Linked DNA regions of Homo sapiens: all the other regions are linked to region 1. The links come from fine-mapping of genetic effects on gene expression. A gene starts in region 1. Each other region holds a variant in brackets. All regions are shown on one strand. Distances are between the middles of the regions. Region 1 holds the start of EPB41L4A (erythrocyte membrane protein band 4.1 like 4A). Region 2 has its middle 85 kb from the start of LINC02200. Region 3 overlaps EPB41L4A (erythrocyte membrane protein band 4.1 like 4A). Region 4 has its middle 92 kb from the start of LINC02200. Region 5 overlaps EPB41L4A (erythrocyte membrane protein band 4.1 like 4A).

Region 1 (6,227 bases):
CTAAATGATGGTGACAGAAAGCAGATCTATGGTTGCCTGGGAGGTGAGTCGTACTGAGGAATGGGAGTGTAAGATGACAAAGTGGCCAGGCGCGGTGGCTCACACCTGTAATCCTAGCACTTTGGGAGGCTGAGGCGGGCGGATCATGAGGTCAGGAGTTTGAGACCAGCCTCGCCAGCATGGTGGAACCTTGTCTCTACTAAAAATACAGGGCATGGTGGCGCACTCCTGTAGTCCCAGCTACTTGGGAGGCTGAGGCAGGAGAATTGCTCCAACCCGGCAGGTGGAGGTTGTAGTGAGCCGAGATCGCGCCACTGCACTCTGATAGAGCGCGACTCTGTCTCAAAAAAAAAAAAAAAAAAAAGAAAGATGACAAAGTGCAGGAGGAAACCTTAGGGAGGGATGAATATGTGTACTAGCTTGATTATGGTGGTGGGTTCATGGGTGCACACTTATGTCAAAACTTATCAAATTGTACACTTAAAAATTATGCAGTGAACTGTATGTAAATTATATGCAATAAAGCTATCCTTAGAAACTCTGTGGAATCCTCTTGTCACTAGTAATCTCTAATTTTGTGTTAAATAGATTTTAAATGTTCTTTTCTCCAGTCTCCGATAAAGAAATGGAAAAGAAAATGCTTCACTCAGGAAAGAGTGTCATATGTATGGGACCTTATGGCTTTGTAACTTACCTTATGAGGAGCTGGGAACAGAATCCCTGCCCATCCAAAACCCTCAGCCTTCTCACTGCCACTGGAGGTAAAAAAACAAAAACAAACAACAGCAAAACCAAAAATCAGAAAGCAAAAAAACCAAATCAAAGGGCCAAAAAACAGGTGAGAGCAAAACTCAAAAAAACTGGGAACAGATGATTGCTTGAACCTTTTGTTTTTGCAGCCTCAAGTGTCTCGGTTGGATATGGAGGTAAAGAATGAAAATGTTAAGCCATCTTTCAATCACATTTGGTAACTCCTGTCAGGAATACTGTATTACAGAAAAGAAAAGCCTCTACAAGCAGAAATGCTAAAATCTAGCATAATAAGGTGTCACCTCATAAGGCAGGCAAGACTTTGACAATAAAACAAAGCTGGACACGAAATTTGATCAGAAATTCAAAACCTGAGTCAATTTCACAGAAAATTCAGAAGATAAAATAGTTTTATTCATAGCCTAGGTAAAGTTCAGAAATTTATATTGCACTTTGGCGGTTATGCTGATCCTGTGTTTGGATGGGGTCACAATAGCAGGGAAGGCCGAGGCTTCCTACAGAAGGTCCTTTGTGGCAAATCACTATGAGAGGAAACTCCATCAAAAGTCGCCAATTGTTCATTTCATTTCTACTGTGCTACGGAAGCCTGGTTTTGTTTTAAGGGCTAACGTCCTAGGTTTTAAGCAATTTTTTTTGAGCTTTGGCTACCCAGCTAACAAGCAGTAGAATAGTCAACTCAAAACTACGTCTGATGCCAAAGCTCTAACTCTAAAACTCAATATAGAGTTTTTTTTCTGTGACACCTCCCCTCGTGTCTCCCCTAACTGCGACTCGCATTAACTCGCTGCTGGTTCCCAGCTGGAGAGCACAGATTGCACCTGCTCCGAAGCCCAGCGGGGCTCAGTGTCGTCCGCAGCTCAACCTCGGCTGCCTGTGCACGGACATCGGGACCCACCAGGGGTCACTGCAGCTTCAGAGCTATTGTGCCCCTCAGTCCTGGACGCGGCCGACCGCGCGGAGGGCGTGGGATTGGGACCGCCGAACCGTGGGGTCCGAGCAGCACCGCGTCCTCTTCTCCCCACCCAGCCTCCAGGTCTCTCGGGGGAAGGACGCAGCGAGCGCTGGACTGCCCCGCGGCTTGGGCGCAGTGTGCGGCTTGGCAGCGTGGACTCGCCGGCACCTCGCCGCTGGGACCACGGTCTCTGCCCCGCCCTCCGCCCCCAGCTGATACCCCGCCCAGAAGGGGCTCCCCTGCCGCGGCCAGCGCTGGACTGGGGGGTCCGCTTCGTTCCAGGGCTTTTTGCAGACGCCTGGACCGGGCCCACATGCACCTGGGCTGCTCCCGCCCGGGGCGCCACCACTCGCGCGGCCAAGAGAACTTTCCCCGGAGCCTCTGCGGCCTGGCGCGCCCAGGGCGCACCCCCCGCTCGCCCGTCCGCCGCGTTCCCAGCTGGGGCGTCGCTCCTCCGCCCGCAGGTCCCCGCCTCCCCGCTTTGCTGAATGTCCTGAAGAAGCCGTATTCCGCCGCCGCGGCAGGCATTCCCGGAGGGAGAGCTTGAACTTGGCTACACACGGCCACCCGTAATGAGCTCGGGAGTCCCCGGACGGGAGCCACACCCCGCGACGAGCTGACCTCCCCTCGCTGGTCTGGGTAAGGAGCCTGCTGCCCTTTCCGCCTCTCTTCCGGCTCCTCGGCGCTTGCGGCTGGGGGACGGGGTAGCGGACGGAGCGACGACCTTCGCCTCTGCCCCTGCGCCCATGGTCGGGGCGTCGTGGGTGCTCCTCACACAAAAGAAAAGCCGAGCGCTTCATACTCGGCGGATCTGACCCGGGGCTGCGGGGCGGGGTCGCGGCTGGAAGTGCGCGCCCGCGGGGGACTCCGCAGGCCGATCGGACGCCAGGACGTCGGGGCCGCGCTCAAATCCGTGCGGCAGGAGGGAGGTGCAGCGCTTCCAGGGTTTTCCAAGGCCGGGGAGAGCCTCGAATTCCCATCACTCCTTTTTCTGGTCTCTTGCCCCCAGTGCCAGGAGACTTTTGTCGTCCCCAGGACTGCGGGAGGGGCCCCGCGCCCCCGCCTTCGGAGGAGCTCGAGCCGCAGGATGCGCGGGGACGCGCCACCGCCCTCCGCGCCCAGTTCCGCCGGCGCTTCCCCGGCGGCTCCCGGGCGCTGACTCTCCCGGGCTTTTCCGCCTTTCTCGCTCCCGCCCCGCCGGGCGGTTCGGCGGCCGGTCCCCGGACCCCGCCGGGAGCTGCTCGTCTCACCCTCGCCACGGCGCGGACAATAAATTAATGCATCGCGCTTGAGTGGAGGGGGCGGCTGGGCGCCTCGGTGGTAGCTTTCTCTCCTGGCTGGAGACGACCACAACCGACATGGGCTGTTTCTGCGCTGTTCCGGAAGAATTTTACTGCGAAGTTTTGCTCCTGGATGAATCCAAGTTAACCCTTACCACCCAGCAGCAGGGCATCAAGGTGGGTGCGGCCCGGAGCGCGTTCCGGGGGTTGGCGGCAGGGCGGGTGCGGGGGTCCATCGCTTTGAGGGCTGTCACCGGTGGGTCGAGGGCGGCGGCCGCGACTCTGCGCGGTGGGGAGGAGAGGCCGCTGTCCCCTGCGCGCAGGGAGAGGGTGGACGTACCAGGGTGAGTTAACTTTGAGTTCCTTCATAAAGCAAAGTTGAGTTTGACGTTTCTAAGTTTACTCAGCACACCGGCTCCCAGCAGCACCCCAAAACTCTTCCCCAAACCGGTTTTCTCCAAAAGCCTCTGGGTGCCCCGCAGCTCTCAAAGAGGGGCAGAATGGGTTATACCAGCTGCGTCCCACCAGTGTGGAAGGCATGGTTTCCCTCGACTTTGTTGAAGGCGTTTTCCTTGACAGTGTTATTAGGGAAGTGAACTAGTTCACTCGTTGAAACGCATTAATGGGTCATTGTGATTGTTTTGCGTGGGTTCGTAGTTGGGTAATGCTACGTTTGGACGGAAAATATTTTCCCTTTCTACAGCGACCTGGGTTTATCCTCACATTTAAGTAAACATCTCTCAAAGCGACCCAGTAATAACTTTGCTCCTGTTTGTGGGTCATTAAAATGCAATCACTACATTAACCTAGAGAGCCCAAACAAAAAGGCAGCAGAGCTCGCAGAGATCCTCTTCCTTACATTGGATGAGAAGGTACGTATGTTTGTAGTGACAACCTGACCGACGCGCCTGCGTGCTTGTTTTGCTTTTGCAACAGTGTTAACTACCTAAAGGAGATCTAAATCCGGAGCGTTTTGTTGTTTTGTTTATCTTTCTCTTTCAGTTTTAGATCGCTAAGGCATTTTAGATAAGGCAACAGCTGAGTCTGGTGAAGGGAAACCGCCCCCCCGCCCCCGCTCTGATAGAGCTGGCTTTCTGAGAAATCGAGTTCAGGCTGCCAAGTATCCTCTCTTAGTCGCTTCATCTCAGAAGTTAATCATAATGGGGTAGGCCCTGGGCATTTCCTTTTGTGAATCAGTTTTTACATAGTTTTATGCACACTAGGATAACTATTCCTGGCTAAAAGTTTCAGCGTTAATGTTGCCATTCTTAGTGTACAGAATTCCAGTTTCATAGGTGTAATTCTTTTGCGGGAGAAAGGAGCAAAAATAATCAGTTAAAGCTACAAGATTGTTAACCCTTTCCTTTAGGAGGTTGTTTTGAATATTGTTTCCCCAGTAATTATACTGAGCAAAATTCAGTTCGATTCTCATTCGGTATTTCCTTTCAAGACCAATAAAATAGACTCTTTTCGGGGAGGGTGTACATTTTGTATTTTTAACTTTTCTTTATGTTCCAAAATATTTCTCCTCTCACCCGCCCAATGAAATCAGGAAAATATTGTAACTTACAAGATGATGTAACATTCTTTGGTGTACTGTATGAATAAAATAGGCAAAAATCACAAAAACATCCTAAATTGTAGATAATATATAGATTCTTGTGTCGAGATAGAAACAATTAGAAAAAGGTAACTGATGATCAGATACTAAGACAGTAAAGAAATCTTTTTGAAGTGCAAAGTCTAAATTATCTGGAGTCTAAAGTCATCTGGAATGTGAGCTTCCTATTTAATCATCAAAGTCATGCCTATCAGCTGTAGAGCGTGTACATTATTCTGTCAAGAGAGCAGCCAGGACTTGGGATCAAATGGAATAATTTTGTCAAAGAAACATGAATCAAAAATCCTGATCCATAATTATTTTTTATAATCCAGTGGTGCTTATCTTGTTTTACAAATGGGCTGAAAATTGGTGAGTGATTCAAAGGCAACAGCAACTATGTAATACTGTTACTTTGGATATGGGCCATATAACTAAACAATAATTTAAGCAGGCTGTTGTTGGAAATAATCATTTAACAACAGGCTTGGCCTCTGTCCTTGTCACAAAAGCATGCCACAATTATTTTGATGGCCATGTGTGTAACACAGATGTTGTCTGCTAAAGCTAATCACATTATCTTCTATGCTACCTTAAAAGTGTATGTGTTAAACACCTACCCACCCTTGGCGTGTACTAAATTAAATATATTTGCATATTTATAAATGGTGTGTATAAAAAAACTTGCATGTAGAGGTATTCAAACATTGGATGAACATGTTTATGTTCTGTACATACTTGACATTTTAAAAAACTTTTTCCTAACCTTCCTGTATTATGGTGCATAGGTACAATTGATGTGTGTTGCATTAATTACTTAAAATTAACTCCTACTTTAGTTTGTAAATGAAAAAGTAAACAGTTACTTCAAAGTTAATAGCCAGTAGCTACCATTATGGTGTTTTTCCTTGAGATAGTATACTTAGTAATTTTGATTACCACTAATTAAAGTCAAAATTAAGCAGGCAACATCAATTAGCCTACTGTTCTCTGAAATTAACTAGAAAAATCTCTATTTTTCAAAAGCATTTCCTAACATTTATTTTGTGATTATCCTTTTTCCTATTCTATCTTAGATGAAGATGGCTAATTTTACATTAAAATTATGCACACATTTCATCTCTTAGTAGAAATAATTTTACTGATTCCTAAATGGTTACTTGAGAATTTGCTTGTATTATTGTTACAGTAATGCACTGTGAATTAGAAAAGATTAATTATAGCAAGTTAAGGTGGAAGAAATATGAGAGAATCTTGGTAAACATTTTTTCTGTGTATCATTTTGAAAAACATTCTTTGGATTTATTTAAGCACCAAATTACAAATAGAAAAGTTAGTTTTGAAGTGATTTTTCTTCAACTTAGATAAAGTTTTTCATCGATGTTAGAAAAAAAATTAATGTGTCATCATGAAAAGTGTTTCAGCCTGAAGACAACAGTTACTCATCTTATATGGTAAGATGAATATCAGTTAAATGGAAAATAATTTTATTTCCATTTAATTTCCATTTAAATGGAAAATAATTTTCTGTTAAAAAAAAAATACCAGAAAAATAAAACACAGTATCTTTGCATCCCTGTTAATGTTACGGAGGTATTTGCCTTTTTTACTTGCTTTAGGGGCA
Region 2 (6,227 bases), 120 kb before region 1:
TTGGGGCAGGGCTGACAGGGAGCCAGAAGCCAGTTCCATCTGTGCTCCTAACACTACCTAATATGTGGTGTGTGACCCTGAGCTTTGCTCCTCTGGGTCTCAGTTTCCTCATCTGTAAAATGAAGTGAGTAAACGAGATGATTTCCAGGTTGTTTTTACTTTAAGAGAATGATATGAAATGATACCTATCTTATGATTTTGTATAATGTGACCAATAAAAGGATGAGGTAGGGACTGAATTAGCTGAAGATGACCATAACTTTCACATGTAAATTCAAACTCTTCTCAGCCTAAATTCTCAAGGTAAAGCAATTATCAATTCCTACAAAATAAATATGGAATATCTGATCTTAGTATATCTTGTTTTTATTTCTCTAGAGAATTGGCAAAAGATTTCTCCCATATTTATTGGTAGCAGAGAAATTCAAGCTAGGTGCTCGCAGCCAGAAGCTTGTGGCTGGTCACTATGAAATCCGCACAGCTTACTCAGATTACTTTGAAGGGTTTTACAATGGGTTTTATTTTATTCTCTACCTTGTCATGGCCAGATCAGAACGCCTCTTTGAATACTAAATGGTGACTTCCTGCTCTCAACACTGTCTAACTTAAAACACAAATAAGAAGATGCAGCTAGAGACAGGTGAAGAAGGAAAAGAAAAAAAAAGCTGTTGGATGAAGGGTATCCTTTTAGTTTTATGCGTGTGTTGGGATCTGGCCCAACACTAGTCTTAGGAGTTCAGACACTTGGAAATGCTTCCACATCGGGAAGCGGAGATGAGAATGAGAAAAGTAAAGCTCATCCATTTCATGTCTTGAGCTACTTGCTCATGTACAGTGCATGGTTCCAGGGAAAGCAGACACACAGGCACAAGAAGTAACCTGACTAAATTGTGCTTATGAGTTTACATTGGTAGTGAGGACAGTGTCTGAGAGACTGCTCTCTGGAGGACCAGAGGCTGGCCAAGAGGCTTGAGAGGGGAATGGATTTTGAGCCCCTGCGCATGAATGAAGAATTCAAAGGTGGTTGTCAAGCCAGTGCAAGAGGATCGCTTGAGACCAGGAGTTCAAGACCAGCCTGGGCAACATAGCAAGACCTTGTCTTTCCAAATAAAAAATAATTAGCTGTACATGGCAGCATGCACCCGTAGTCCCAGCCACTTGGGAGGCTGAGGACAGAGGAATGCTTGAGCCCAAGATGTTAAGCCTGTAGTGAGCTGTGATTGCATCACTGCACCAAGGAAAATGGTGCTAAACCATTCACACAAAGTCTATCCATATGATCCAGTCATCTCCCACTAGGCTCTACCTCCAACACTGGAGATTATATTTCTTTCTTTTTTGTTTGTGAGTTTGATTTTTTTTTATTATACTTTAAGTTCTGGGATACATGTGCAGAATGTGCAGGTTTGTTACATAGGTATACATGTGCCATGGTGGTTTGCTGCACCCCTCAACCTGTCATCTACATTAGGTATTTCTCCTAATGCTACTCCTCCCCTTACCCCCTACCCCCCAGCAGGCCCCGTTTTGTGATGTTCCCCTCCCTGTGTCCATGTGTTCTCATTGTTCAACTCCCACTTATGAGTGAGAACATGCAGTGTTTAGTTTTCTGTTCCTGTGTTAGTTTGCTGGGAAGGATGGTTTCTAGCTTCATCCATGTCCCTGCAAAGGGTATGAACTCATTCTTTTTTATGGCTGCATAGTATTCCATGGCGTATATGTGCCACATTTTCTTTATCCAGTCTATCATTGGTGGGCATTTGGGTAGATTCCAACTCTTCGCTATTGTAAATAATGCTACAATAAATATATGTGTGCATGTGTCTTTAGGGTAGAATGACTTAGAATCCTTTGGGTATATAACCAATAATGGGATTGCTGGCTCAAATAGTATTTCTGGTTCTAGATCCTTGAGGAATCACCACACTGTCTTCCACAATGGTTGAATTAATTTACACTCCAACAGCAATGTAAAAGCTGTTTCTCCACATCTTCTCTAGCATCTATTGTTTCCTGACTTTTTAATGATCACCATTCTAACTGGTGTGAGATGGTATCTCATTGTGGTTTTGATTTTCCAGTGTCATCCACCAGTAATGATGAGCTTTTTTTCATATGTCTGTGGCCGCATAAATGCCTTATTTTGAGAAGTGTCTGTTCATATCCTTTGCCCACTTTTTGATGGGGTTGTTTTCTTCTCAAAAATTTGTTTAAGTTCCTTGTAGATTCTGGATATTAGCCCTTTGTGAGATGGATAGATTGCCAAGATTTTATCCCATTTTGTAGGTTGCCTGTCCACCCTGATGATACTTTCTTTTGCTGTGCAGAAGCTCTTTACTTTAATTAAATCCCATTTGTCAATTTTGGCTTTTGCTGCCATTGCTTTTGATGTTTTATTCATGAAGTCTTTGCCCATGCCTATGTCCTGAATGGTATTGCCTAGGTTTTCTTCTAGGATTTTTATGGTTTTAGGTCTTATGTTTAAGTCTTTAATCTATCTTGAGTTAATTTTTATATATGGTTTAAGGAAGGGGTCCACATTCAGTTTTCTGCATATGGCTAGCCAGTTTTCCCAATACCGTTTATTAAATAGGGAATCCTTTCCCCATTGCTTGTTTGTGTCAGGTTTGTCAAAGATCAGATGGTTGTAGAGGTGCAATGTTATTTCTGAGGCCTCTGATCTGTTCCATTGGTCTATATATCTGTTTTGGTACCAGTATCATGTTGTTTTGGTTACTGTAGCCTTGTAGTATAGTTTGAAGTCTGGTACTGCGATGCCTTTAGCTTTGGTCTTTTTGCTTAGGATTGTCATGCTATACTGGCTTTTTTTTGGTTCCACATGAAATTTAAAGCAGTTTTTTCTAATTCTGTGAAGAAAGTCAATGGTAGCTTGATGGAAATAGCACTGAATCTATAAATTACTTTGGGCAGTATGGCCATTTACACGATATTGATTCTTCCTATCCATGACCATGGAATGTTTTTCCATTTGTTTGTGTCCTCTCTTATTTCCTTGAACAGGGGTTTGTAGTTTAAGAAGTCCTTTACATCCCTTGTAAGTTGTATTCCTAGGTGTTTTATTCTCTTTGTAGCAATTGTGAATGGGAGTTCACTCATGATTTGGCTTTCTGTTTGTCTGTTATTGGTGTATAAGAATGCTTGTGATTTTTGCACATTGATTGTATATCCTGAGACTTTGCTGAAGTTGCTTATCAGCTTAAGGAGATTTTGGGCTGAGACGATGGGGTTTTCTAAATATACAATCATGCCATCTGCAAACAGAGACAATTTGACTTCCTCTCTTCCTATTGAATACGCTTTATTTCTTTCTCTTGCCTGATTGCCCTGGCCAGAACTTCCAATACTATGTTGAACAGGAGTGGTGAGAGAGGGCATCCTTTTCTTATTCCAGTTTTCAAATGGAATGTTTCCAGCTTTTTCCCATTCAGTATGATATTGGCTATGGGTTTCTCATAAATAGCTCTTATTATTTGA[G/C]ATATGTTCCATCAATACCTAGTTAATTGAGTGTTTTTAGCACGAAGAGGTATTGAATTTTGTTGAAGGACTTTTCTGCATCTATTGAGATAATCATGTGGTTTTTGTCATTGATTCCGTTTATGTAATGGATTACATTTATTGATTTGCATATGTTGAACCAGCCTTGCATCCCAGGGATGAAGCCAACTTGGTCACGGTGGATAAGCTTTTTGATGTGCTGCTGGATTTGGTTTGCCAGTATTTTATTGAGTTTTTTCACATCAGTGTTCATCAGGGATATTGGCCTGAAATTTTCTTTTTGTGTTGTGTCTCTGCCAGGTTTTGTTATCAGGATGAAGTGGGCCTTATAAAACGAGTTAGGGAGGAGTCCCTGTTTTTCTATTGTTTGGAATAGTTTCAGAAGGAATGGTACCAGTTCCTCTTTGTACCTCTGGTAGAATTTGGCTGTGAATCCATCTGGTCCTGGTCTTTTTCTGGTTGGTAGGTTATTAATTACTGCCTCAATTTCGTAACTTGTTATTGGTCTATGCAGGGATTTGACTTCTTCCTGCTTTAGTGTCAGGAGGGTGTATTTGTCCAGGAATTTATTCATTTCTTCTAGATTTTCTAGTTTATTTGCATAGAAGTGTTTATAGAATTCTCTGATGGTAGTTTTTATTTCTGTGGGATCAGTGGTGATATACCCTTTATCATTTTTTTGTTGTATCTATTTGACTCTTCTCTCTTTTCTTCTTTATTAGTCTGGCCAGTGGTCTAGCTATTTTGTTAATCTTTTCAAAAAACCAGCTCCTGGATTCATTGATTTTTTTTGAAGGGGTTTTTGTGTCTCTATCTCCTTGAGTTCTGCTCTGATCTTAGTTATTTCTTGTCTTCTGTTACCTTTTGAATTTGTTTGCTCTGCTTTCTAGTTCCTTTAATTGTGATGTTAGGGTGTCAATTTTAGACCTTTCCTGCTTTCTCTTGTGGGCATTTAGTTCTATAAATTTCCCTCTAAACACTGCTTTAGCTGTGTCCCAGAGATTCTGGTATGATGTGTCTTTGTTCTCATTGGTTTCAAAGAACTTAATTATTTCTGCCTTAATTTCGTTATTTACCCAGTAGTCATTCAGGAGCACGTTGTTGTTCAGGTTCCATGAGGTTGTGCAGTTTTGAGTGAGTTTCTTAATCGTGAGTTTTAATTTGATTCCACTGTGGTCTGAGAGACTGTTTCTTATGATTTCTGTTGTTTTGCATTTGCTGAGGAGTGTTTTACTTCCAATTATGTGGTCCATTTTAGAATAAGTGCTATGTGGTGGTGAGAAGAATGTATATTCTGTTGATTTGTGATGGAGAGTTCTGTAGATGTCTATTAAGCCCACTTCGTCCAGAGCTGAGTTCAAGTCCTGAATATCCTTGTTAATTTTCTGTCTCATTGATCTGTCTAATATTGACAGTGGGGTATTAAAGTCTTCCACTATTATTGTGTGGGAGTCTCTAAGTCTCTTTGTAGGTCTCTAAGGACTTGCTTTATGAATCTGGGTTCTTCTATATTGGGTGCATATATATTTAGAATATTTAGCTCTTCTCGTTGAATTGATCCCTTTACCATTATGTAATGGCCTTCTTTGTCTCTTTTGATCATTGTTGCTTTAAAGTTTGTTTTATCAGAGACTAGGATTGAAACCCCTGCTTATTTTTGCTTTCCATTTGCTTTGTAAATATTCCTCCATCCCTTTATGTTGAACCTATGTGTGTTTTTGCACATGAGATGGGTCTCCTGAATACAGCGCACCAATGGGTCTTGACTCTTTATCCAATTTGCCAGTCTGTGTTTTTTAATTAGGGCATTTGGACATTTACATTTAAAATTAATATTGTTATGTGTGAATTTGATCCTGTCATTATGATGCTAGCTGGTTATTTTGTACATTAGTTGATGCAGTTTCCTCATAGTGTCGATGGTCTTTACATTTTGCTATGTTTTTGCAGTGACTGGTACTGGTTTTTCCTTTCCATATTTAGTGCTTCCTTCAGGAGCTCTTATAAGGCAGGCCTGGTGATGACAAAATCCCTCAGCATTTGTTTGTCCCTAAAGGATTTTATTTCTCCTTCACTTTTGAAGCTTAGTTTGGCTGTATATGAAATTCTGGGTTGAAAATTCTTTTCCTTAAGAATGTTGAATATTGGCCCTCACTCTCTTCTGGCTTACAGGGTTTCTGCAGAGAGATCTGCTGTTTGTCTGATACACTTCCCTTTGTAGGTAACCTGACTTTTCTCTCTGGCAGCCCTTAACATTTTTTCCTTTATTTCAACCTTGGTGAATCTGACAATTATGTGTCTTGGGCTTGCTCTTCTCGAGGAGTATCTTAGTGATATTCTCTGTATTTCCTGAATTTGAATGTTGGCCTGTCTTGATAGGTTGGGGAAGTTCTCCTGGATAATATCCTGAAGTGTGTTTTCCAACTTGATTCCATTCTCCCCATCACTTTCAGGTACACCAATCAAACATAGATTTGGTCTTTTCACATCATCCCATATTTCTTGGAGGCTTTGTTCATTCATTTTCATTCTTTTTCTCTAATCTTGTCTTCACACTTTATTTCATTAAGTTGATCTTCAATCTCTGATACCCTTTCTTCGCCTTGATCAATTCGGCTATTGATACTTATGTATGCTTCATGAAGTTCTTTTGCTGTGTTTCTCAGCTCCATCAGGTTATTTATGTTCTTCTCATACCGGGTTACTGTGGT
Region 3 (6,227 bases), 120 kb after region 1:
TTGAAAGACTGAGCCTCAGATTCCTATCTTCAACCCAGATGTTTCAGGAGGGACTACACTGTGTTAAAATTCAAAATCTGGATTCAGACTGTATGGGTTCAAACCACAGTCTACCTGGAGAGCTGTGTGGCATTGAGTGAGTCTCCCTAACTTTTCTATACTTCAGTTCCTCTGTTTATAAAGTGAAGATAGTAATAGTACCAGCTTCATAGGGTGGTAGTGATGATTGAAGGAATCTATAAAAAATACACAGACTAGTGCTTTAACATGTGTGGTCCACATAATGTTTTAGCTGTTGTTCACTACTCGGATGCCTCTCATGTATCTCAAAGGTAACATATTCAAAACTGAAGCCATCTTCCCCTCCAAATCTGCTCTTTTTAAAAAATGTTTCTGAGATCAGTGATTTTCAAGATTTTTTTTTCTTTTAGAGATGAGGTCACACTATGTTGCTTAGGCTGGTTTCAAACTCCTGAGCTCTAGTGATCCTCCTGCCTCAGCCTCCCAAAGTGCTAGGATTATAGGTGTGAGCCACCATACCTGGTCTATGAATTTTTTTAAAAAACCATGTACTCGTGTGTAATTTTAGGTTGAGAATTGAAATTTTGTAAGTTTTAGTAGATCCAGATCTTTGGTTTATCATAAATACTGACATTGTAAAATCAAATTGTCATATTCCTTTTAAATGTATCCTATGAATTTATATTTCATAGCAATTTTGTACTCTTCATCTACCTTTATAAAAATTTATGAACAAGCTCTTTTTTAAAAATCAGAAACATTTATTTATTCCTTTTATGTCGTTAAACTTGTATTCCTATTCTACTTTCTCCCTAAAATGTTATTATATTTTTATTAATAAAAAACATATATCCATAATATACATATAAATTGGAATTTTAAAAGTTTATTTCCTAAGATGTTAAGGCTCTAATTGTTGTTGAGCCCTAAAAGTAGTTGTTATTACCATGGTTGTCACTATACAATTAATTAAAACAGCAAAATACTATGCATTTTAATAATTATTAAACATATTTTCTATGGAAATTGACAGACAGGGGGCAGGACTAGATTGCAGTTCCCACTCGGACGGATCGTGCAGTGTGTAGAGACTTGCATTGTGAAATTTTGCTCCAGAACTACTGCAGAAATATACCAAGAAAGCTGAGAGAATCCACAGACCCTTTGAAGGAAGCAGATTGCTCCTGCAGGAACCCAGAGACACTGCAAATACTGTGCTGGTATCCATGGCTGAGAGACATGAAGATGGTTCACATCACAGGACTCTGTGCAGACAACCCCTAGTACCAGCCTGGAGTCTGGTAGCCCTGCTGGGTGGCTAGATCCAGAAGGAAATAACAGTCACTGCATCTCAGCTCTCAGGAAGCCACATTCCTAGGAAAAGGGGGAGAGTGCTACATCACGGGAACACCCCATGGGACAAAAGAATCTGAACAGCAGCCTTAAGTTCCAGATCTTCCATCTAACATAGTTTACTCAAAGGAGAAGGAACCAGAAAAACAATTCTGGTAATATGATAAAAGAATGTTCTTCAACACCACCCAAAAAATCATACTCTCTCATCAGCAGTGGATCTAAACCGAGAAAAAGTCCCTGATTGACCTGAAAAAGCATTTAGAAGATTGATTATTAAACCAATTAAGGAGGCACCAGAGAAAGGTGAAGTCCAATTTAAGGAAATCAAAAAAAATGATACAAGGAACGAGGGGAGGAATCTTCAGTGAAATAGATAGCATAAATAAAAAACAATCACAACTTCAGAAAATAAAGGACACACTTAGAGAAATGCAAAATGTTCTTGAAATTCTCAGCAGTAAGACTCGAACAAGCAGAATAAAGAACTTCAGATCTCGAAGATAAGGTTATCAAATTAACCCAGTCCAACAAAGACTAAGAAAAAAGCATTAAAAAAATGAACAAAACCTCCAAGAAATGTGAGATTACATTAAGTGACCAAATCTAAGAATAATTGGCATTCCTGAGGAGGAAGAGGAATCTAAAAGTTTGGAAAACATATTTGGGGGAATAATCTAGTACAGCTTCCCCAGCCTTGCTAAAGACCTAAACATCCAAATAGAAGGAGCTCAAAGAACACCTGGCAAATTGCAAAAAGATCATTACCTAGGCACATTGTCATCAGGTTAGCTAAAGTTAAGATGAGGGAAAGAATCTTAGTAGCTGTGAGGCAAAAGCATTAGGTAATCTATAAAGGAAAACCTATCAGATTAACAGCAGATTTCTCAGCAGAAACCCTACAAGGTAGAAGGGATTGGGTCCCTATCTGCAGCCTCCTTAAACAAAACAATTATCAGCCAAGAATTTTGTCTCCAGCAAAACTAAGCTTCATAAATGAAGAAAAGATAGTCTTTTTCAGGTAAACAAATGCTGAGAGAATTTGCCAGTCCTAAGACAGCACTATAAGAACTGCTAAAAGGAGCTCCAAATCTTGAAACAAATCCTGAAAACACATCAGTAACAGAACTTCCTTAAAGCATAAGTCTCACAGGACCTATAAAACAAAA[AT/T]ATAATTAAGAAAAAACAAGGTATACAGGCAACAAATAGCACAATGAATGGAATAGTACCTCATATCTAAATACTAATGTTGAATGTAAATAGCCTAAATGCTCCACTTAAAAGATACAGAATTGCAGAATGGATAAGAATTCACCAACCAGGTATCTGCTGCCTTCAAGAGACTCACCTAACATATAAGGACTCACATAAACTTGAGATAAAGGGATGGAAAAAGATATTCCATGCAAATAGACACCAAAAACAAGCAGGCATATGTCAGTCAAAACAAACTTTAAGAGTAGTTAAAAAAGACAAAGTAGGACATTATATAATGATAAAAGCCCTTGTGCAACAGGAAAATATCACAGTCCCAAATATATATGCACTTAACACGGGAGTTCCCAAATTTGTAAAACAATTACTACTAGACTTAAGTAATGAGATAGAGAGCAACACAGTAATAGTGGGGGACTTCAATACTGCACTGACAGCACTAGACAGGTCATCAAGATAGGAAGTCAGCAAAGAAACAATGGATTTAAGCTATACTCCAGAACAAATGGACTTAACAGATATTTACATAATATTCCTTAATAGAGATGGGGTTTCACCATGTTGGCCAGGCTGGTCTCAAACTCCTGAACTCAGGTGATCTACCTGCCTTGGTGCTGGGATTACAGGCGGGAGCCACCACGCCTGGCCATTTACAGAACATTCTACCCAACAACTTCAGAATATACATTTTATTCATCAGTGCATGGAACTTTCTCCAAAATAGACCATATGATAGGCCACAAAACAAGTCTGAATAAATTTAAGAAAACTGAAATTATATCAAGTACTCTCTCAGACCATAGTGGAAAAAATTCTTCAAACTGAATGATAATAGTGACACAACTATCAAAACCTCTAGGATACAGCAAAGGCAGTGCTAAGAGGAAAGTTCATAGCCTTAAATGCCTGTATCAAAAAGTCTGAAAGAGCACAACTAGACAATCTATGGTCACACCTCAAGGTACTAGAGAAACAAGAACAAACCAAACCAAACCCAACAGAATGAAGGAAATAACCAAGGTCAGAGCAGAACTAAATGAAATTGAAACAAAAAGAAATGCAAAAGATAAATGAAACAAACAGCTGGTTCTTTGAAAAGATAAATAAAATTGATAGACCATTAGCAAGATTAACCAAGAAAAGAAGAGGGAAGATCCAAATAAGCTCAATTAGAAATGAAATGGGGGATATTACAACTGACACCACAGAAATACAAAAGATCATTCAAGGCTACTATGAACACATTTACGTGCATAAACTAGAAAACATGGAGGATATGGATAAATTCCTGGAAAGAGACAACCCTCCTAGCTTAAATCAGAAAGAATTAGAAACCCTGAACAGACCATTAACAAGCAGTGAGATTGAAATGGTAATAAAAAAATTACCAACAAGAAAAAGTCCAGGACCAGATGGATTCAAGTTGAATTCTGCCAGACATTCAAAGAAGAATTAATACCAATCATATTGACATTATTCTTCAAGATAAAGAGGAAATCCTCCCTAAATCATTCTGTGAAGTCAGTATAACAAAGAAAACTACAGACCAATACCCCTGATGAACATAGATGCAAAAATATTTAACAAAATACTCGCTAACCAAATCCAACAGCATATACAAAAGATAATCCGCCATAATCAAGTGTGTTTCATACCAGGAATGCAGGGATGGTTTAACATACACAAGTCAATACATGTGAAACATCACATAAACAGAATTAAAAACAAAAATCACATGATCATCTCAGTAGATGCAGAAAGAGCATTTGACAAAATTCTGCATCCCTTTATGATTAAAACCCTCAGCAAAATTGGCATACGAGGGACATACCTCAATGTAATAAAAGCCATCTATGACAAACCCACAGCCAACATAATATGAACGGGGAAAAGTTGAAAGCAAATGGAAACACATTTCATGTTCGTGGATGGGTAGAATCAATAATGTGAAAATGACCATACTGCCAGAAGCAATCTATAAATTCATTACAATTTCCATCAAAATACCACCATCATTCTTCACAGAACTAGAAAAAACAATCCTACAGTTCATATGGAACCAAAAAAGAGCCTGCGTAGCCAAAGTGAGACTAAGCAAAAAGAACATAGCTGGAGGCATCATATTACCTGATTTCAAACTATACTATAAGGCCATAGTCACCAAAACAGCATGGTATTGGTATAAAAATAGGGACATAGACCAATGGAATAGAATAGAGAGCCCAGAAATTAACCCAAATACTTATAGCCAACTGACCATCGACAAAGCAAACAAAAACAAAGTGGGGAAATGGTGCTGGGATAATTGGCAAGTCACATGATGGAAAATGAAACTGGATCCTTATCTCTTGCCTTATGCAAAAATCAACTCAAGATGGATCAAGGACTTAGATTTAAGTCCTAAATCATTAAGACTTAAAACTATAAAAATTCTAGAAGATAACATTGGAAAAACCCTTCTAGACATTGGCTTAGGCAAAGATTTCATGACCAAGAACCCAAAAGCAAATGCAACAAAAATGAAGATAAATAGGTGAGACTTAATTAAACTAAAGAGCTTTTGCATAGCAAAAGGAACAGTCAGCAGAGTAAACAGACAGCCCACAGAGTGGGAGAAGATCTTCACAATCTATATATCTGACAAGGGACTAATATCCAGAATCTACAAGGAACTCAAACAAATAAGAAAGAAGCAATCCCATCAAAAAGTAGACTAAGGACATGAGTGGACAATTCTCGAAAGAAGATATACAAATGGTAACAAATACATGAAAAAACTCTCAACATCACTAATGATCAGGGAAATGCACATCAAAACCACAATGCAATACCACCTTACCCCTGCAAGAATGGCCATTATCAAAAAAATAAAAAAATAATAGATTTTGGCATGGATATGATGAAAAGGGAACACTTCTGCACTGCTGGTGGGAATGTAAACTAGTACAGCCACTATGGAAAACAGTGTGGAGATTCCTTAAGGAACTCAAAGTATAACTCCCATTTGATCCAGCAATCCCACTACTGGGTATCCACCCAGAGGAAAAGAAGTCATACGAAAAAGATACTTGCACACCCATGTTTATAGCAGCACAGTTCACAATTGCAAAAATGTGGAACCAACCCAAATGCCCATCAGTCAACGAGTGGATAAACTGTGGTGTGTGTGTGTGTGTGTGTGTGTGTGTGTATGTATGTATATATGTATGTGATGGAATACTACTCAGCCATAAAATGGAATGAATTAATGGCATTCACAGCAACCTTGATGATATTGGAGACTATTATTCTAAGTGAAGTAACTCAGGAATGGAAAAACAAATATTGTATGTTCTCACTCGTAAGTGGGGGCTAAGCTATGAGGATGCAAAGGCATAAGAATGATACAATGGACTTTGGAGACTCGGGAGGGAAGGGGTAGGAAGGGGGTGAGGGATAAAAGACTACAAATTGGCTTCAGTGTATACTGCTTGGGTGATGGTTGCACCAAAATCTCACAAATCACCATTAAAGAACTTATTCATGTAACTCAATACCTAACCTGTTCCCTAAAAACCTATGGAAAAAAATTATTAAACATAAAATATAAGTATTTATTGGAAGCGCATCTTTTAATGAGGTGAGTGGGACTTTTTCTT
Region 4 (6,227 bases), 120 kb before region 1:
GCTGGCAGCGAGAATTTCAAGCCAGTGATGGTAGCCTGCTGGGCTTCATGGGGGTGGGATCCACTGAGCTAGACCACTTGGCTCCCTGGCTTCAGCCCCCTTTCCAGAGGAGTGAACAGTTTTGCCTTGCTGGCATTCCAGGCACCACTGGGGTATGAAAAAGAAAAAACTCCTGCTGATAGCACAGTGTCTGCCCAAACGGCCACCCAGTTTTGTACTTGAAACCCAGTGTCCTGGTGGTGTAGGCACCCGAGGGAATCTCCTGGCCTGCAGGTTGTGAAAACCATGGGAAAAGCCTAGTGTCTGGGCCAGACAGCGCTGTCCCTCATGGCACAGTCCCTCAAAGCTTCCCTTGGCTAGGGGAGGCAGTTCCCCAACCCCTTGCACTTTCTGGGTGAGGCAATGCCCCACCCTGCTTCTGTTCACCCTCTGTGGGCTGCACCCACTGTCTAACCAGTCCCAGTGAGATGAGCTTGGTACCTCAGTTGGAATTGCAGAAATCACTCACCTTCTATGTTGGTCTCACTGGGAGCTGCAGACCGGAGCTGCTCCTATTCAGCCATCTTTGAGATTACATTTCAACATCAGATTTTGGGGAGACAATCAAACCATATCACCAGCCTAGATTATATTTGTCTTTACAGCAGTTCAGTCAGTGGTACAAACAACTTTTAATATTATTTTAGGGAGGAAGCAACTCATAAAGGCAAATGTACCCAGGGCCCATGGAAGTCATAATATAGTTCTGATAACAACTTTTCTATGATCTTAATTTTATGGATGAGAAAACTGAAGCATGCTTAAGTGTCTTGCCCAGTGCTACACAGCTGGCAACTGGCAGAGCTGAAACTCGTGTCTAGGCACTCTAATTCCAGTGTTTCACAGAACACTGTCCTCAGCTCTGCAGATTTGCTTTTCAATGGAGTATTTCACATGAATTTTCCAGATAATTAAAAACAGCTCTCTACAAAACCAAAACATTTTGTTTTAATAATTTTGGATGAAGATCTTCCATACCTTTGTTATTTACTTTCCTGCCTTATTAATTAGATCATCCTGAACATAAGGTCGTCTTTTTCATGATGATGGTATTTTTGTCCATAGCTAGTCTTTATTGAATGTTTTTTATGTACCTGCACTATTCTATGATTTTTGCATGTATTAACTAATTGAATTCTCACAACCCTATGAGGCAGAGTTTACAGATGAGGAAACCAATGTTAAGTGAGATTAAGGTACTTAACCAAGTTCACCCAGCTGTAAGGTAGCAATTGGATCCTGGCTACAAAGCTGAGCCTCTTAACCAGGGTGTAAGAGGAGCTTTGTGTTGTGCAGTGCAGAGTGCTGCTCTCAGGAGCTTTATTTGTACCCCTAATAGCTTCAGAATAATAGATTACTTTAGGCCTGTGTCCACTTTTCAGGACATGTCCTCTCTCCCTGTCAGGTAGTTGGCTGATAATTCTAGCTGTTTTGTTTCTAATTTGTTTCTCAATAAATTTGTGGAGTGCCTACTATGTGCCAGGTATTGTCCTTACTTGCCGCTTCCAAATTACTTTAATGGAAGAACCAGAGAGCCCATTATTTTAGCTTTGTGTGTTAAGTATTGTTAATATGTGCTGTATGAAAAGGTGCCCCATTCATCAGCCTTGTGATCCTTATTGCCTGGCCTTGTGAGATTGGTTTTAGATGCCTTGAGGGCTTTTGTGTGTTAATGTTTATTTCTTGGCTTTCAGCTAAATTTTCAGTAGTGAGCACTGGTAAGTGGCATGGTAGATATTATTATATGTAAGGAGAAAGTACTTGGCATGATACTGTAATTCAGCAAGTGGCTTGACAGAATTCATTCACCTGCTTCTGTGCAGTGTCTTCATGGTCTTTACTGAATAGTGTTACAGATGATTTAAATGGAACATAAGACTCCATTGGGCTGTTCTGGATTATTCTTTCCTTAAGGCTCAATGTTCATTATGAAGCCTGAATTTGGGATGGACTTTATCTCCTTACATATATATCTGCCATCTCAATGTTTTTAATGTGAGAAGAAATGCTTTTTATTTGTCTTGACATCTGTTTCTACTGAAATGTCACATTACTGACCTTGTGGCCTTCATGGCTCCTTTAGAGTTTCATACTCCAATTGGCCATAGCTCTAGGATTTGAAGGCCACTCCCTGCCATTATTGTGATTATTTTCTATAAACCTAATTTCAGTTATTGGCCCTCGAAGCCCTCAGGAAGCATGCTACTACTCCCTACACCTTATTCTTTATGACCACCCCAGAATGCTGTGCCAACTGGGAATCAGTTTATAAACCTACAGAGGATTGATGGTTTCTGGGCCCTGCTGCTCAGTCATCATGGAAATCCCTGCAGCCCTTTGTAGACTCTGGAATATTAACTGACAATCTGCATAAGAGAAAAATAGCCAAAGGATGAGAAAATTTCATGAAACCTCTACATCTGTTTAAAAACAAACAAACGAACAATCTACCCTAGGCTATTACCTAAGTCAGAGTGTGCAAACAGGTTGAATTTAGGCCACAGACATTTTGTTTTGCCTGCATCTTAAACCTCAAACCTTTTCAATCAATTGCTTTCATTTAAAAATCAGGAAACTTCTCTAAAAATATTCTAGATTTTGAACTTCTTTTGAAAACTGGGTGATCTGACAACATTGGTCCCATGTTTCTGTGTAACAGTAATTGGCTGGACTTGGCAGCACCTGGCCACTGTGCACAGGGCTTGCCTTGCCCCCACTTGCTGCA[G/A]TCCATATTGCAGTCCACTTTGCTTATGTATTTTACTTGCCTGTTCCCTGGAGGCATTTGCTACCCCATGGGCATTGTATCCCGTAATACGAACCCATGAAGCTAAAAGCTCAAAAGTTCAGGTCCGCAATATCTCTGCTTAGTTTTCTGCTTAGTTAATACAATTTTAAGAAATTAATATTGAAAATACGTGCTCACAAAAATTAAAACACTGTATAAATATAGAAGTGTATACAGTAAAAACTACAAGACCAGTGACCTTGTTGATCCAACAATTCCCTTTCCTCTTTTCCCAGAAATAATACTGTTAACAGTATCTTTTCCATTCTATTTCTGCAAATATAATTCTTTATCCAACAACTGTTACCTATTTTTTGTCAGGCCATACGTGTATACAAATATTGGGTCCCACACATGTATAAAGAGTGATGTGGTATATTAAAGTAATTATCTGTGTAGTTAACAAAAAATCCTCTTGTTGAAATGTCTGAATAGTAGAGGAAAAATACTTTTTAATTATCTGGCTAATTGCCTCCATTAATCATCCTTTCATGTTCTTTCTTCATGGAATGAATTCATCCATTCAGTAGATATTTACTGAGTTCTGATTATGTTCAAAGCACTGTGCTAGACAAAGTGGGAATTACAGAGATAAACTAAAAACAAGATCAACAACATTACCGTAGGAAAGAGGTGATCAATTTTTGCCTCCCTCAAAAGAGATGAAGGTGTTGGATTTGGAATTAAACTTACTCTATTTTCAGTGGACCACGTCTAAAATGTGAGAGATTACAAAAGTCCCAGGAATGATCCAAACCTAATAGCTCAAAAGAAGTTTCAGCAGAGTGGAGGACCTGGGTGGTGCATAGATGGCAGGAGATAGACCCACCCAGCAGTGAGGCTGAGGTGAGTACAAGGGAGAGCTCAGTGATAAAGGAAGACCTCTGAGGATACTGGCCCCAAGATGTTTGGCTTGTGTTCAGGCAGATAAAAACCACCATGGGCACGGACTGTGAGTCTTCTTCTCTCCCAAGAAGATTTTGATGACAATTTTACTAAGATGAAGTTAAGATGAGACAGCAACAAAGGCAGAAATAAAATTAGAGATGTGCTTGCGAGAGATTTAAAGAGAAAGCAGAATTTTGCCCTTGAGGTCTTCTTAGTTATACCTCAGTTACCTAGAAATAATATATTTTTGTTGTTGGAACACTCTCCCTAATTACAGAATGATAAACAAAACAAAACAAAACAAAAAACAAAACAAACAAAACCCTGTCAATCTTTAAAGAAATGAACAACCAAAAAAGGGTTACCATAAGGACTTTTGTTTCCTCTGTAGATTTTCAGACAGTTGGGGCCTCTTGGAAATTATAGAAAACCCCTGTTTGTTCTAGATTGGCAGCCACTGCAAATGTATGTAATGAAGGCACGGAGCAAGCAGGCCTCATGGAGCGGAATGATAAGGTGGTATAATTTGTCCCTCACTTTCCTTTTATATTTATTCAATGGGGAAAGTTTTCCCTTGGCTCTTGGATAAAAAACATCAGCAGTCCTATGGCTTTCCTTAACACACTTAACTAATAAAACGATTGCCACTCTTAGTCACCAAGCACAGTCTCAATTCGGAAGTCAAAATTTCTCATCCCATATAAGGCAAAACTCTGAACCTGATTCAAATATAAATCTTCCCTCCCCTACCAGGAAGCCTTCAACTGGAGGAGGGGTGTAGTTGGTTCCTTTTCCCTTCCTATGCCCTTCCTCCCCCAGCCTGATAATTGTGCTTTCTTAACCTTCCAGATCTGAAAGCAAAGAAAGAGAAGAATTAAAATAACCATGAGAGGTTTTACTTGACTGCTGCTACTACAAGGTGGCTTTGCAGCTCTTTTCCCAAGTTCTTGTCTTTTCCCATTCTGAACAATTCGGTCCTGAGCTGATTAGCTGATGCCCACCCAGATTGAGGGTGGGTCTGCCTCTCCCAGTCCACTGACTCAAATGTTAATCTCCTTTGGCAGCACCCTCACAGACACACCCAGAAACAACACTTTGCCTCCTTCAGTCCATTCAATATTAACTATTACAGTTGGCTATGGTGCCCAGAATGGGGTGTCAGAGCCCAAGTTGGGTGAGGAGGGCCTTGCCTCAGAGGGGTGCATTGGTGTGGCATGTCAGACCCCAAGCAGGCTGAGGAGGGCATCTGCACCAAGAAGGCTGTCCAGGGCCAGACACTGGAGTCAAATGAGTTGAGGTGGGTATTTGCATGGGAGTATGGGCTGCCTAAGGAAGCCAGAGCCTGTGCAAGGTGAAGAAAGTTCATGCCTTGTCACACATGGGGTGGCAGCCTGGTGCAGAGTTGGAACCCAAGGAGGAGGGTGGTCTTGTGGAGGGTATCAGAGCATGGACAGGGTGAGGAAGATGTCACTCCACACAGTGAGGCATGATATTGGCAACTTGCTTTCAAATAATTCTGGAAAAAGTTTTTAGTATTGTACATGCATGCTTCTGTAAGTTTGAGATTGTTTTTTTTTTTTTTTTTTAAAAAAAACCCACAACAATTTTCAAATATTCTCTGGCACTGGCGTGAGTTTAAAGGTAATGATTTCATAGATGCCATCATGTATTCTTTGGAGATTTCACTCCTTGTCCTCTCTCCACTTCCACACCATCTTCAAGGATCTCTCTGCAACTCTGTTCATGTGAATGGTGCCCTCTCATTCGGTGTGTTGCTTATTCCCTCTCCAATCCCTATGAGTCAGACTATGCCATCAGCTTCTCTCTACTGAGGACTTTGCCCTCCTAGGTAGCCCTATTGGACAGGATATAAGATGACCTCATGCCAGCTTTCTTGTGTGTGGTTCACATTTCTGTTATGTAAAATCCATGCATCTCTTGCTCTGACAAATTCTGTGTATGCAGGCCTATGTCAACCCAGCCATCTTTCCCTTGGCTTACCAGTCAGCTGCTGTCCAGCCTGTCTCTCACCCTTGAGTGCTCAGAGGGGAGTCACACTCAAGTGCAGTGTGTCCCCACCCCCAGACTTCAGGAAATACACATTAAGCTCTCTGAGAATTCCCTTTGATGCTTCTTCTTCTAAGTTGAGATGAAAAAACAAGCAATTCACATCCTATTCTTTTGCGAATGAGGTGGTAGAGGAACCCACAGCACATGCAGAGCTTTCAGAAGACATATCACTCTTCAAAAATCCCTTATTTTCATTTCCAGTAGCCAGATGCTTTTATATGCTCAACGTGGATGACGGATTTAAGAGCTGTGCAACTCTGGTTTTGACATGCATCATGGTTATGCAAGATATTAATGTTGGGTGAATGTGGGTGAAGGGTGTGTGAAAACCTCTGTACTATTTTTGTCACTTCTTCTGAATCTTAAGCTATTTCAATATGTAAAGTTATTTTAAAAATGGTCATGCAACTAATTTTCATTTTTGGATAACATCTTGTTTTAGAAT
Region 5 (6,227 bases), 58 kb after region 1:
GGCTGAAGAATTGCTTAACCCAGGAGGCAGAGTTTGCAGTGAGCTGAGGTTGCGCCACTGCACTCCAGCCTGGGCAACAGAGCGAGACTCCGTCTAAAAATAAATGAATGAATGAATGAATAAATGAATGAAAGCAAATATTGGCACAGGATCATTATTACCTTTTCTAGAGTTGATACTGAATTTACTGCTTTTTGGAAAGTAAACTTCATTATTGACTATTTTTTGAATGCTACACTCTATAAACTTACATGAAAATATGGCATGAATGGTTTCAGTGTTTAAGTGAGTATTTGAAGTAGGGAAAACACTAACCTACAGTTTTAATAGAAACCGCTGAATGTGCATGCAGCTGTGTTATGTAACTGGTTAATAATCTTAAACTGTAAACTTAATATTTAAAAATTTAAGCTATCAGAATCATCAAATGGTAAGTGATGGTTTGAGACATCACTATGAAGCTGGAACTGGTGAGGTGGCTGAGACTGACCCCAAGATTGTGCAGGATCTCACATTGATGGTGGAGATGTTCCTGCAACATGTGTGAAATAAGTTTCAGAACATGTCTGACCAGATCATTGGAAAAATTGATGATATGAATACTCTCATTGATCTTGAGAAAAACGTCAAAGATCTCCCTTATAACACAGACTGAGGTGGAAGAACTGGAAGGTGAAAACAAGATACCTATCCTGCCTGGCTGATTTTTTTTTTTTTTTTTTTGTAGAGTCAAGGGTCTCACTATTTGCCTCAGGCTGGTCTTAGTGATCCTTCTACCTCAGCCTCTCAAAGTGTTGGGCATGATTTTTTTGTTTCTTACATCACCAGTCAGGATTGTTTGAATTGAAAATATATAATATGAAATAACTTGTCTTTTATAAGTTATATGGGGAACATAAAGGAATAAAATTCTTCTATAATAAAGTTACCACTCTTATTACCCAGCTGCAGAACCTCCTTTGATTAGGCCAGGAGGTGCTGCAGGGTTTAGCCCCTGAATGTCCCACTCACACTGGGCTCTGACTAGACCAGCTGAAACTTGTGTACAGGACATTTTCAAGCCTTGAAAGTGGCTAATGGAAATGATATGGCCAATTGCATTGTAAGAAGTCAGGACTCAGGTAGGAATTGGCTTCCTGAAGTAATAGATTTCAAGGGCAGGGTTTCTTGACCAAAAATATTTTCCAAAATAAAGGTTTCTGAAATCTTGCCTTTAAAAAAAAATAATAATAATCAAATAAAAATACATATAAAGCTACCTGCTACTTTTAGGAAACATCATAAGCCATCAGATCAGGTTTGAGATGAATCGTCAGACTTGATATTATTTATATTGCATTTATTTAAAAAATGATTTGTCTTTAGGATGTCAGTGTATTTAAGAGAACAGTAAAGTATTGTTAATGATTACTTTAGAGAACTTCAGTTTGGCACAGAAGACTTTTATCTGTTGTTCCTCAAGGTTTAATTTTGTGTGCTGTTGACATTAACTTTTATGGAATTGCTATTAATGATAAAGTGAGGCTAATGTTTTGGTTGACTTTTAAAATTAATGTTCTAAGTCTGGGTGCGGTGGCTCGTGCCTGTAATCCCAGCACTTTGGGAGGCTGAGGTGGGCGGATCACCTAAGGTCAGGAGTTTGAGACCAGCCTGGGCAACATGGTGAAATCCCGTGTCTACTAAAAATACAAAAATTATCTTGGCGCAGCAGCGCATACCTGTAATCCCAGCTACTCGGGAGGCTGAGGCAGGAGAATCGCTCGAATGTGGGAGTTGGAGGTTGCAGTGAGCCGAGATGGTGCCACTGCACTGCAGCCTGGGTGACAGGGTGAGACTCCATCTCAAAAAAAAAAAAAAAACATTAATGCTCTAAGCTGGGCATGGTGGCATGAGCCTGTAGTCCCAACCAGTTGCCAGGCTTAAGGTGGAAGGATTGCTTGAGGCCAGGAATTCAAGGCTGCTGTGAGCTATGGTTGTACTTGTACCACTGCACTCCAGCCTGGGTGACAGAATGAGATCCTGTCTCTGAAAACTAAATAAAATTAATGCTATGATTGTGTTACATACTTAAAATGGGATCCTTTGTCTAATGGTAGACTAGCCCTTTGGTTGGTATTGCCAACAAGACCAAGAATTTAAAATAGCTTATATCAATGGCTTGGTTTATCAAGAAGGAAGGAAAAAGGCTAACATAAGACTTTTTAGAATTAGATTCTCTTATTTTCTCTGATAATTACTTTTAATTTTTATTTATTTGAGACAGGGTCTTGCTCTGTTGACCAGGCTGAAGGCAGTGGCATGATCATGGCTCACTGCAACTGCTGCCTCCCAGGCTCAGTTGATCCTCCTGCCTCAGCCTCCCGAGTAAATGTGACCACAGGTGCACACCACCACACCCAGTCAGTTTATTATTATTATTATTATTATTATTTTTTTTTAGCATTTTTGGTGTTCTTTTTATTTTACTTCTACTATTTTTCTTTGGACTCAATCACAATAACAGAATTAAAGATCAAAGTGTAAAAGTTAAAGACCAGTACAGATTCAATAATTATTCTTTTCTACATACTGTGTTTAAATGATATCCCTTTTTCTTTTTATTCTTTTTTTTTTTTTTTAAGTATTTATTGATCATTCTTGGGTGTTTCTCGGAGAGGGGGATTTGGCAGGGTCATAGGACAATAGTGGAGGGAAGGTCAGCAGATAAACATGTGAACAAAGGTCTCTGGTTTTCCTAGGCAGAGGGCCCTGCCGCCTTCTGCAGTGTTTGTGTCCCTGGGTACTTGAGATTAGGGAGTGGTGATGACTCTTAACGAGCATGCTGCCTTCAAGCATCTGTTTAACAAAGCACATCTTGCACCGCCCTTAATCCATTTAACCCTTAGTGGACACAGCACATGTTTCAGAGAGCACGGGGTTGGGGGAAAGGTCATAGATTAACAGCATCCCAAGGCAGAAGAATTTTTCTTAGTACAGAACAAAATGGAGTCTCCTATGTCTACTTCTTTCCACACAGACACAGTAACAATCCGATCTCTCTTTCTTTTCCCCACACTTCCCCCCTTTCTATTTGACAAAACCGCCATCGTCATCATGGCCCGTTCTCAATGAGCTGTTGGGTACACCTCTCAGACAGGGCGGCTGCCGGGCGGAGGGGCTCCTCACTTCTCAGACGGGGCGGCCGGTCAGAGACGCTCCTCACCTCCCAGACGGAGTGGCGGCGGGGCAGAGACACTCCTCATTTCCCAGAC[T/A]GGGTCGAGGCAGGGCAGAGGCGCTCCTCACATCCCAGACGGAGTGGCGGGGCAGAGGCGCTCCCCACATCCCAGAAGATGGGCGGCCGGGCAGAGACGCTCTTCACTTCCTAGACGGGATGACGACCGGGAAGAGGCGCTCCTCACTTCCCAGACTGGGCAGCCGGGCAGAGATGCTCCTCACTTCTTAGACGGGGTGGCAGCCGGGCAGAGGCTGCATTCTCGGCACTTTGGGAGGCCAAGGCAGGCGGCTGGGAGGTGGAGGTTGTAGCGAGCCGAGATCACGCCACTGCACTCCAGCCTGGGCAACATTGAGCACTGAGTGAGCGAGACTCCGTCTGCAATCCCGGCACCTCGGGAGGCCGAGGCTGGCAGATCACTCGCGGTCAGGAGCTGGAGACCAGCCCGGCCAACATGGCGAAACCCCGTCTCCACCAAAAAATACAAAAACCAGTCAGGCGTGGCGGTGCGCGCCTGCAATCCCAGGCACTGGGCAGGCTGAGGCAGGAGAATCAGGCAGGGAGGTTGCGGTGAGCCGAGATGGCGGCAGTACAGTCCAGCCTGGGCTCAGCATCAGAGGGAGACCGTGCAAAGGGGAGAGGGGAGAGGGTCGAGGGTCAGTTTATTATTTGTAGAGACAGGGTCTTGCTGTGTTGCCCAGGCTGGTCTCAAACTCCTGGACTCAAGTGATCCTCCTGCCTCGGCCTCCCAAAGTGCTGGGACAGGCGTGAGCTATGGTGCCTGGCCTGATAATTACTTTTACAAATTGTTGGATTCCTATTGAATCTGTAGCTGGGGTTACAGGCATGAGCCACCATGCTTGGCCTGATAGTTACTTTTACAAATTATTGGATTTCCGTTGAATCTGTTAGCCTGGATAAAATATTTTTTAAAATGAAAAAAGCACATACACGTCAGTAATTATAGAGTTCTGATGAAAATTTTGTTTTGCAACATGTATGTTGAGATGGAAAGTGAAAATGCTGTATCATAATTATTCAGAATAAAGTAATAGATAACTTACCTTTAAAATAAACTCATCAAGACTTTTGGCTGGGCACAGTGGCTCACGCCTGTAATCCCAGCACTTTGGGAGGCCAAGGCGGGTGGATCACGAGGTCAGGAGATGGAGACCATCCTGGCTAACACGGTGAAACCCCGTCTCTACTAAAAATACAAAAAATTAGCTGGGCGTGGTGGCAGGCGCCTGTAGTCCCAGCTACTCGGGAGGCTGAGGCAGGAGAATGGTGTGAACCCGGGAGGCGGAGCTGGCAGTGAGCTGAGATCGCGCCACTGCACTCTAGCCTGGGCGACAGAGCAAGACTCCGTCTCAAAAAAAAAAAAAAGAAGACTTTCAAGGATATTTCTTCTATGTATCCTTGAATCTGAAGCAGGAAGTGAGTTTTTTCATATTCTAAACTCAATCAACAGTTGTTATTCCAACCATATTAACCTTAGGGGGAGCATTAGGAAGAAAAAGCTTTTGAAATCAGCTATATATTGGATAATTGGGTGCCTCTGGCTAGGCAGTTTCTCTCAGTTGGAAAGCAAGCACTCAACTGAAAATTTAGTGAATTTCTTATTTGTGTTCTTTACCTTTGTTGGATCACAGACCTATTAGAGAAATTGGGAAAGAAAACACACCCCTGGATTCTCTTCTAAGACATGTGTACATATACATAATATCTTTCAGGAACAGTTTTATTGAAGTAGAATATAAAGTATACAAATCTTAAATACATAGCTGAATGAGTTTTTACATATAGATATAGTTGTGTAAACACCATCCAGATCAAGAGGTAGGATATTTTCAGTACTCCAGGAAGTTCCCTTGGGTCCCTTTTCAAACAGTACCTACCCAGAGGTAAATTACTCTTCTGAATTTTAGCCCTTTAGGCTAATTTTGCCTATTTTGACATTGTATAAAAGGAATAATACAATATATATATTTTTGTGTCTGTTTTCTTTCACCTAGCATTGAAGTTTGTGATTCTTTTATGTTATTGTCTGTGGCAGAAGTTCTTTTTTTCTTTAACTTTTGTTTGGTAATTCATTTTGTGAATATACTATAATTTATCCATTCTACTGTCAGTGGACAGTATTTAGCTATCACAAATAAAGCTGCCCTGAACATTCTTGTATATATCTTTTGCTGGATATATGCACTCATTTCTTTTGTGTGTATACCTAGAAGTGGAATTGCTATATCATAGGGTAGGTGTATGTTTAGCTTTAGAAGGTACTGACAGCTATTTTTTAAAGTGGATATACCAGTTTCTACTCCAGCTAACAATCTGTGAGAATTCTAGTTGCTCTGCATCCTTGCCATTACTCAGTATCATCCAGCTGTTAAACTTTTGCTGTCCTGATGGGTGATCCTTTTTCTGTGATTGCAAGGGGATTCTAGATTTCCTAATAATCAACCATGGGTACGTATCAGGATCTTAGATTAAGAAATTCTTTTCTGGTTGACAGTTACAGTCTTTGTGAAATTATCTTTTCCAGTTTATCCAGAGTTCTATAGGACTAATCTGTAACATAGAAACTAAATTATAAAGTTAACCACCATAACCAATCCCTGAAAAACATGGAGTAAGAGAGTAAAAAATAAATTCATGTGTGTATGTGTAATATATGTGTGTAAGTTCACAGCTGGACATATACAGTAAGGACAAATCATTACCTCTCCCTTGATGGAAAGGATCCAATATAATCAATCTGCTGCCAAGTGGCTGTCTGATCTTCCAGGGGAATGTTGCCATCTTGGACTGAGGATTGGCTTCTGCTGTTGGGAGATCAGGCACTCATTGTTGGCAAAGGCCAGGTCAGCGTTCATGAGAAGAAGTCCTTTGCTGAGTCCGTATGTAGCCTCCACTCTTTCCACCATGGTCACTTGTTCTTGGACTATTGAGGAAGACCGGTGTGACTGATGAAAAAGGATAACTTCTCCACAGCCTTGTAATTTTGTTCACCTGG

The links. PIP is the estimated chance that this variant, and not a neighbour inherited with it, causes the effect.
Region 2: its variant is the best candidate, but not a certain one, in a credible set for the expression of EPB41L4A in blood mononuclear cells (TOPMed, PIP 0.60).
Region 3: its variant is the best candidate, but not a certain one, in a credible set for the expression of EPB41L4A in whole blood (TOPMed, PIP 0.77).
Region 4: its variant is the best candidate, but not a certain one, in a credible set for the expression of EPB41L4A in whole blood (TOPMed, PIP 0.83).
Region 5: its variant is the best candidate, but not a certain one, in a credible set for the expression of EPB41L4A in whole blood (TOPMed, PIP 0.67).

What each region holds. Positions count from the first base shown.
Region 1 is chr5:112,415,894-112,422,120 of GRCh38, reverse strand. It overlaps EPB41L4A (erythrocyte membrane protein band 4.1 like 4A), which reads left to right and starts at 2,844. Exons shown (of 23, transcript NM_022140.5): 1 at 2,844-3,180. The coding sequence starts at 3,082. EPB41L4A-DT (EPB41L4A divergent transcript) reads right to left here and starts at 2,538. Exons shown (of 1, transcript NR_027706.1): 1 at 1,143-2,538. RefSeq lists a silencer at 2,090-2,179.
Region 2 is chr5:112,540,231-112,546,457 of GRCh38, reverse strand. No RefSeq gene overlaps it. Among named protein-coding and RNA genes, the nearest start is that of LINC02200, 85 kb to the left of the region's middle. The variant G/C (reference allele first, on the strand shown) is at 3,496.
Region 3 is chr5:112,296,543-112,302,769 of GRCh38, reverse strand. All of the region lies in intron 2 of EPB41L4A (erythrocyte membrane protein band 4.1 like 4A), which reads left to right. Among named protein-coding and RNA genes, the nearest start is that of EPB41L4A, 120 kb to the left of the region's middle. The variant AT/T (reference allele first, on the strand shown) is at 2,544.
Region 4 is chr5:112,532,999-112,539,225 of GRCh38, reverse strand. No RefSeq gene overlaps it. Among named protein-coding and RNA genes, the nearest start is that of LINC02200, 92 kb to the left of the region's middle. The variant G/A (reference allele first, on the strand shown) is at 2,765.
Region 5 is chr5:112,357,915-112,364,141 of GRCh38, reverse strand. All of the region lies in intron 1 of EPB41L4A (erythrocyte membrane protein band 4.1 like 4A), which reads left to right. Among named protein-coding and RNA genes, the nearest start is that of EPB41L4A, 58 kb to the left of the region's middle. The variant T/A (reference allele first, on the strand shown) is at 3,252.